Homo sapiens: one gene and its partner. The protein of the gene in region 2 interacts with the protein of the main gene of each other region in a biochemical or structural test. Each region holds a gene or a part of one and is shown on either strand. Other genes may lie near its edges.

Region 1 (3,745 bases), on a different chromosome or scaffold from region 2:
CCTCAGGAGCAACACTTAAAAAGATTATACTACCTTAGAACTATCTGAAATGTATTTAGGAAAGAACTAGGGTGACAAGTTTGACCTTCCATAAATTCATCTTTTTTTTTTTTGACTGTGCAACCTCTAATTTCCTCTAATTTGGAGAAGGGAGGGTGGGTGGAGAAAGAAAAAAAGGTGAAAAACATCTAATTCAGTGTGTACAATCTCTCTCTTGTGTGTGTGTATATACATATGCGTGTGTGTGTGTGTGTGTGTGTGTATTTTTCCCCCTCCACCAAGACCTTGGAGGTCAATAAGAGGAAAAAATGGCTCACAAGACAAGGTTTCATGGCTAACCCAAGGGAACACCTTCACAGCTGAAGAATTTCAGCTCAGGGGCAACCTGGCTGGGAGTATCAGAGGCCACAGCATTATGGACCAAGAGCGCAGGCCGCACCACCAGCATCCCAGGCGCCTCTGCCGTGCGCATGTCCCTCTTATATAAAGAGATGCTTACAGTCCAGGTGCTTTTTCTTGGGGCCCATTACTTCATGAGTAGTGGCTTTGCAGACCGCTCTTGCTACAGCAGAGCCTGTAACGCTGTACTGAGCGGCGGCGATCCGATCCGTGAGCGTTTGGCCCGACATCTTCTGTGGTCGCGTCTACCGCCTCCTCTTCTGCAGGAAACAAGGGGAGACGGTCCGGCTTTAATCCGCAGACCCTACCCTCCAAGCACCCAGGCCTTGCCTCCTCCAGCCGCGCGGCGGCTCTCTCCTCCTCCATCCCCACCCTGGCACCACCTCTCGGAGCCAGCAACGCGCCAAGCCCCGCTCCTGCGATGCGGTCCAGGGAGTCTTGGCCGTGAGTAGGGCCGTCACGGAACCCCAGCGTGGGCTCCAGTCGCAGCATCGTGACACCGTCCCCATTCTCCCCCGGCCCCCACATAGGGCCAGACTCACCCCCTGGGGACCCCCCTGTCAATCAGCACTTTCCCCGCAACCTGACCCGCGGGTGCTGGACTAGCCACAACGTGCGTTGGGGTTATTCCCTGGGCGCCGCACCCACCGGTGCCCATCTCCCACCTCAGCAGACTTTCCTCCTAGCAGCCCGCAGGCTTCGGGGAATGCATCGGATACCCAAGCCCTGGCTGCCTCCCTCCTCCTCCTCGCGCTGCTGCAGCAAAGGGCTCGTCCTCCCTCAGTCGCGAAGGAGATTATCCTAGCGTTGCGCCATGTTATGCCCTCGCCTCCCCTTCCTTCCTCGCCGCCGGCTCCAAAGCCTCGCCGAGGCCCATCGCCCGGGCCCCTTCCCCCCGGTTCCAAATCCCTGCCGCAGGGGCCGCCCGGGAGCTCTGCGGAGGCGCCGGAGTCTTGGGGCGCCTCACCCTTCCTGGCTTTGGAGAGGAGCCGGGCTGACAGCGAAGCCCAGTCCCCCGCCCGCCCTGGAGCGCTCCGCGGAGCTGTCACTCGGCCGCTGCCCTTCTCCGCACCCTGGGATTATCCTCTGCGGATCCCCGCGAGACCCTGGCGCGGGGAGGGGGCCGAGTACGGCCGCGGGTACTCACCCCGCCCCTGAGCGGCGCCGCCCGCCGCAGGATGAGCGGAGCCCGGGCCGCCGAGGGAAGCCGCGCCGGTGGATGTGTGCGACCGCGCGTAGCCCCGGTGCCCCCGGGCGCAAAGTCTCCAGCCCTGGCCGGGCCCCGCTCCTCAGCTCCGCGGTCCCGGCGCCCACCGCCCCTGGCCCCTGGCCCCAGAAGCCAGTACCCGCCCGCCGCCGCCTCTTCTGCCAGCGCCGCCGCGTCTCTCTAGCGCTCCGAGCTGCGTCCCCATCCCCGCCCCCACCTCAGCTGTGGCTCCTCCGACGAGTCAGGTGACGGCGGCGGACAAACCCGGACGAGCCCTCGGCGGAGCGCCTCGCGGCCCCCTCCCAGCTACTCACACACACCGCCCCCCGGGGCCGGGAGCTTAAAGGCGAGGGGGCGCCTCGCGCAAGCATCCCCGGCAAGCCGGCGGGGAGAAGAAGGAGGCGGGGAGGCCGACACCCACCCAGCCAGCGGCTCTCCGCTGGGCGCCGGGCCGCCCCTCCGCTGCTGGCGCCGCACCCGGCACGCACTGGGCTCGCGCACCACGCACACCTGCCCGCCGACTGCGGGGGGAGCCCTGGGCGTTGGGGGCGTTGGCCAAGACGGGCGAGTGGGCTTCTCGGGTTCTACTCTGTGAAGGCCAAGGCAAGGGCGTCGTCGCGCGCTGCCTGGCGGAGCCCAGCCCCTTCCCCACACTGTCGCTGACACGCCCGCCTGTCAAAGGCTCCGAGGCCCAGATGAGCAGGGCGATTTTAAATGTCAGATCCTGCCGGCCATCCGCGACCGTCACCTGTGCGTCTTCAGCTCCTCAGGCTCCTCCGCTTGTCTCAGTTACAACTGGGAGCCCGGGTGGGCAGGTAATTCTAGCCACTTTAGTCTTAAACGGATACTGAGGTCTGCTGAAGGGAGAATAATTAACACAGCCGTTAATCGAGTCCCAGATTACCTTCGACAGTAATCATTTGCGTGCATAAAGAAAACCCTTTGTACCCTTAAGAAGTAATTTCTGCCAATTAAATATAGTGTTGGAACGTCCGTCAATTGTATGTCAAGTGTATATTCGAATAGTAAGCAGGAATTTCTAAACAGGGATGTGGAGTTGGTTAATAGCTTCACGTGTTGACATTTTCAAAGGTTGTTATTTATGTTCACCTTTTTTTTTAATTCTCACAGTAGCATGAAGATCAAAACTATATTTGTGAGCTTTCCTGGCATTTTTTCTCCTTGCTTCGGGTGGCTTCTGCTCGGCCTTGAAGCCATATATCGATACCTATCGATCTCAACGTTTTGTTATATATTCCTCTCTTTCACCTGGTACAGTGTTCAGTATGCAGTCATGATTTCCTAACTACTGAGACTGATTCTAGGACTAATTGGAAGCTTAATGACTAAAGAGAGACAGCTTAAGAGCACTATTGTCTCAAGTACTAGTCTTACCATATTTACAAGGGAAATAAAAACGCAATTCTATTAAAAAAACTTGTACTCCAGTTTTATAGCAGCTTAATATAATGGCCCCAAACTGGAGGAAAGCCAAATGTTATTCTACTAGTAAATGAATAAACAAAATATGGTATATCCACATAATGGAATACTACTTAGCAATAACAAGAAACAAACTAATACCATTCATGAATCTCAAATTCATTAGACGAAGGGAAAGAAGCTCTATCAAAAATTCTACTTATTATTTTGATTTCATTTATGTAACATTCTGGAAAAGTCAAAACTATAGAAACAGAAAACACATCAGGTGCCGAGTCAGGTGACGGTGGCATTGGGGGAGGGGACTGCAAAGGGGCAGAAGGAAACTTTTTGGAGAGATGGAAATGTTTTATATCGTGACGGTGATGATGATTATACAGCTGCATGTATTTCTCAAAACTCATCAATTTGTACACTTAAAATTGGCGAATTTTGTTGTTTGTTAATTATACCTCAATATAATCTGATAGAGTTGGGAGTGGCAATATTAATATCAAAGTAGGTTTTACAATAAGGAATATTAATAGCAATAAACAGGCACATTTCATAATGAAAAATTCATTAAGAGCATGGAACAATTCTACTTGTTTGTATATCTAAGAACAGAGCTTCAAAGTAGGACGAAGCAAAACCTAATAGCATTAAAAGGAGAAACAGGCAAATCCACAATTATACTTCAGGATTTCAGCACTTTTC
Region 2 (3,745 bases):
TTTCACAATGAAAAAAGAAGATGTTCTTATTATAAGCTGTTTTTTATTATACTATATTGAGATTTTGGAGCAAAATGCCTCAGCTGTTGTTCAAGACTCCTTCCAACCAGATTTGTTTTTTTTTGTTTTTTTTTTTTTTTTTGAGGCGGAGTCTCGCTCTGTAACTCAGCTTGAGGACAGTGGCACTATATCAGCTCCCGCAACCTCTGCCTCTGGGGCTTAAGTGATCCTCCCACCTCAGCCTCCCTAGCTGGGATTACAGGCATGCGCCACCATGCCTGGCTAATTTTTGTATTTTTAGTAGAGACGGGGTTTCACCATGTTGGCCAGGCTGGTCTCACACTCCTGACCTCAAGTGATCCGCCCGCTTCGGCCTTCCAAAGTGCTGGGATTACAGGTGTGAGCCACCCCGTCTGGCCCCAACAAGAGTTTGACTTGCTAAAACCATACTTAAGATATTAAATGCCACAAACTACCAGAGGGTTATTTTACACTAAGAGAATTATAACCTTCTAAAAAGGCCAATTTTTGATTCTCTGCTTGAAACAAATCAAATTCCATCTAATGAAAGTTAAGTCGGGCTGGATGCGGTGGCTCACCCCTGTAATCCCATCACTTTGGGAGGCCAAGGCATGCACATTGCAAGATCAAGGGATCGAGACCATCCCGGCCAACATGGTGAAACCCCGTCTCTACTAAAAACACAAAAATTGGCTAGGTGTGGTGGTGCGTGCCTGTAGTCCCAGCTACTTGGGAGGCTGAGGCAGGAGAATTGCTTGAACCTGGGAGGTGGAGGTTGCAGTGAGCTGAGATTACGCCACTGCACTCCAGCCTGGCGACAGAGCAAGACTCTGTCTTTAAAAAAAAAAAAAAAAAAAAGGAAAGTTAAGTAAGGCTGGGCGCGATGGCTCACACCTGTAATCCCAACACTTTGAGAGGCTGAGGCCGGTGGATCGCCTGAGATCAGGAGTACAAGACCAGCCTGACCAACATGGAGAAACCCCGTCTCTACTAAAAATACAAAATTAGCCAGGTGTGGTGGGTATGCCTGCAATCCCAGCTACTCGGGAGGCTGAGGCAGGAGAATTGCTTGAACCTGGGAGGTGAAGGTTGTGGTGAGCCAAGATCGCGCCTCCAGCCTGGGCAATAAGAGCAAAACTCATCTCAAAAAAAAAAAAAAATCAGTATAATTCTGGCACTCCATTTTTACAATATTCAAAATATTGATTCCTATTTTGCTCCTTCATAGTCAAGAGAAGCCACCAGAACTTAGAGTACAGATTCAAAAGCTGGGAGCTCAGTCGTCTTAGTTGCATGCAGATTCTTTTTTTTTTTGGAGACAGGGTCTGGCTCTGTCACCCAGGCTGAAGTACAGTGGCATGATCACAGCTCACTGCAACCTCCACCACCTCAGCCCCCCAAGTAGCTGGGACTACAGGTGCTTAAAGCACTTTGGCCTCTTAAAATGCTGAGATTACAGGCGTGAGCCACCACGCCCGGCCTGCATGCAGATTCTTGACTACCTCCCTTCTAACTAGAAACAGCTGCAGGAATAAAGCAATTGGTTGAATGGCCCAATGCTACACTGAGGAGGGAAATATTAGGCAGAGTTACCTGGCCACTAGATCTATTTCCAAAATCATCTCAAGGGCATAAGGTGATAAATAGAAGAAAATCTCTGTTTTATAGAACAGGCAATGATAACGAAGGTTATTTTGCCTGAAAAAACTGTGAAACTGAAAATTTGTTACCCGGTCTAAGAATTTTATTAAAAAATAACTTTTTTTACTGAATAATGATGGAATATATGACATTGCTTTATGTCTCTCTAGACTGATACCTCCATGGTTGGTTGCCCCATTTCTGTGATTTTATAGGCCCTGCTTATGCTGTTATCATGGCACCCTTCCACTGTTTCTAACGATCTTCCTATTTTAGACATCTCTGAAAGAACGCAGAGTAAACATGAGAAGTTAGTGAATTAGGGCCCTCCAAATAAAGATTGTTTAAATCCTGACAACCATTTATTTATTTATTTCATAAAACTGGCATTTACATTTTTAAAAAGCTACTGTGTAAGTTTAATAGTTTTACTTTCTATTCAAAGAATCTCTGGCTCTATCCTCTCATATAATATTTGCTGACTGGTCTCCAGAAATCATTAAAACTTTATACACAAACACACATACACAGCTGCAAATACACAAACTTATTACTGGCATTATTCATCTAGTGGGCAGAGAGCAATGACTCTGTAATTGTTCATTAAATCACCATCACCCATAACCATCCACAAAATAATAACTGTTAGGATTTTACTTACATTACCAAGACTAAGAGAAAGATTTACAAAACAACTTGTGTATATGACAAGAACTGGGACTACTAAAATCATCTGTGCGATGGAACAACCGTAGAACTGTCAAAACAGGATCAAACAGAGGTTTTGCTTGGGGGAAGAATGAAAGATCATTTTTAGTATCTTGGTAAATTTAGTTAAAATGATGCAAACTTGGCAGACTCCAAAATAATCTCTGAAAACTCTTTAAAGATTTCTCCCCCAAACAGCTCATTCACAGTACTTACAGCACTGAAGTTGGCAAAATTGCTTGGATCAGCCTCTTTATTGGTAGTGGTAGTAGCAGAAGTGAATGGATCACAAAATATTTCAGGATCTTTTTCTTTGGGGCTATCGTTGCCTGGGAAAGGCTGAAATGGATCATTCAGTTTAAAGGGATCAGGAGAATCCAATTTGTTGATGGATCTTTTCCCTGGATCAAAATCATTACAATTAATTCAACCAGTAAATACAGCAAATACAAGCACACAAGAACATGTACACAGATAGCATTAAAGTACTGTGGGTAGAGGATGATTGAGTACCTAAAACACATTCTGAATATTGTCTTAAATAGCTACACCAACAATTTGTCCTCAAATTCTTCACACATGATCTCTCAAATAGATTCCAGCTATGTGCAGCTAATGAAACAAATAGCAAAGTAAGGATGGGCCAGGAATCATATTTTTGTCCAAAGACTGAATCCCACCATCCCCTAGCCACACCCAAGCAGCATGTTCCCAAAAGGAGAGACGAATGGATTAAACAGAAGGAGAATAATAAAGAATAAAGACAGAAATGGCCTGCCTCTGCTGTTACAGCCCTCAGCCTGATAACAGTTATCCACTAGTGGCAGTAAGAGCAAATGACCTCTGAAAACTGGGAAAATTCTTCTGATTTTTCTCTAGTTCTACATACAATACCTAAGAGCATAAAATTTTTAAATTACCGTAGTAAAATGCTGCCAATTTTTTGTTATTTACTGTATTTCAAAATGAAGAAAAAATGTTTTGAAGCCCAGGGCCTAAATCTTTGCGGTTGCTGATCAAATAATCTCTGACCAAACAATAGTATTCTGTCCTATTAGTCACTCACTAATTCATTACCATTTTCAAACAAGTTCTCTAAGTCTTACTTAAACTTAGTACTTCTTGAAGAAAAGATAATAAAAATAGGGGTCAAAATATCTCCAAATATATTTTTTTCCTAAAATGCATAAGCTGGTAATAGCAATCATAACAACAGATTCCATCACTGTAGCTGCTTAGAAAAGATGCTCATATCTCAATGGATTCTTCCAATAATCCTGTGAAAGTAGGCAAAATTAGAATTACTGCCAACATTTAATAGCCAAGGGTCAGATATATGAAATTATACACTTAAGATCATAGTTAGTCAGGGAAC

Evidence for each region. The genes of interacting proteins can lie anywhere in the genome.
Region 1: the proteins of EPS15 (region 2) and SNAP91 form a complex in vitro, tested with the Homo sapiens proteins (one study listed by BioGRID).

Annotation. Positions count from the first base shown.
Region 1 is NC_000006.12:83,707,299-83,711,043, forward strand, and holds the start of SNAP91 (clathrin coat assembly protein AP180), read right to left. Parts: upstream 1,804-3,745; 5' UTR 1,547-1,803; exon of another isoform or gene 942-1,546; intron 660-941; 5' UTR 630-659; coding exon 500-629; intron 1-499. UniProt on the Homo sapiens protein: Adaptins are components of the adapter complexes which link clathrin to receptors in coated vesicles. Clathrin-associated protein complexes are believed to interact with the cytoplasmic tails of membrane proteins, leading to their selection and concentration.
Region 2 is NC_000001.11:51,358,585-51,362,329, forward strand, and holds part of EPS15 (epidermal growth factor receptor substrate 15), read right to left. Parts: intron 2,772-3,745; coding exon 2,587-2,771; intron 1-2,586. UniProt on the Homo sapiens protein: Involved in cell growth regulation. May be involved in the regulation of mitogenic signals and control of cell proliferation. Involved in the internalization of ligand-inducible receptors of the receptor tyrosine kinase (RTK) type, in particular EGFR.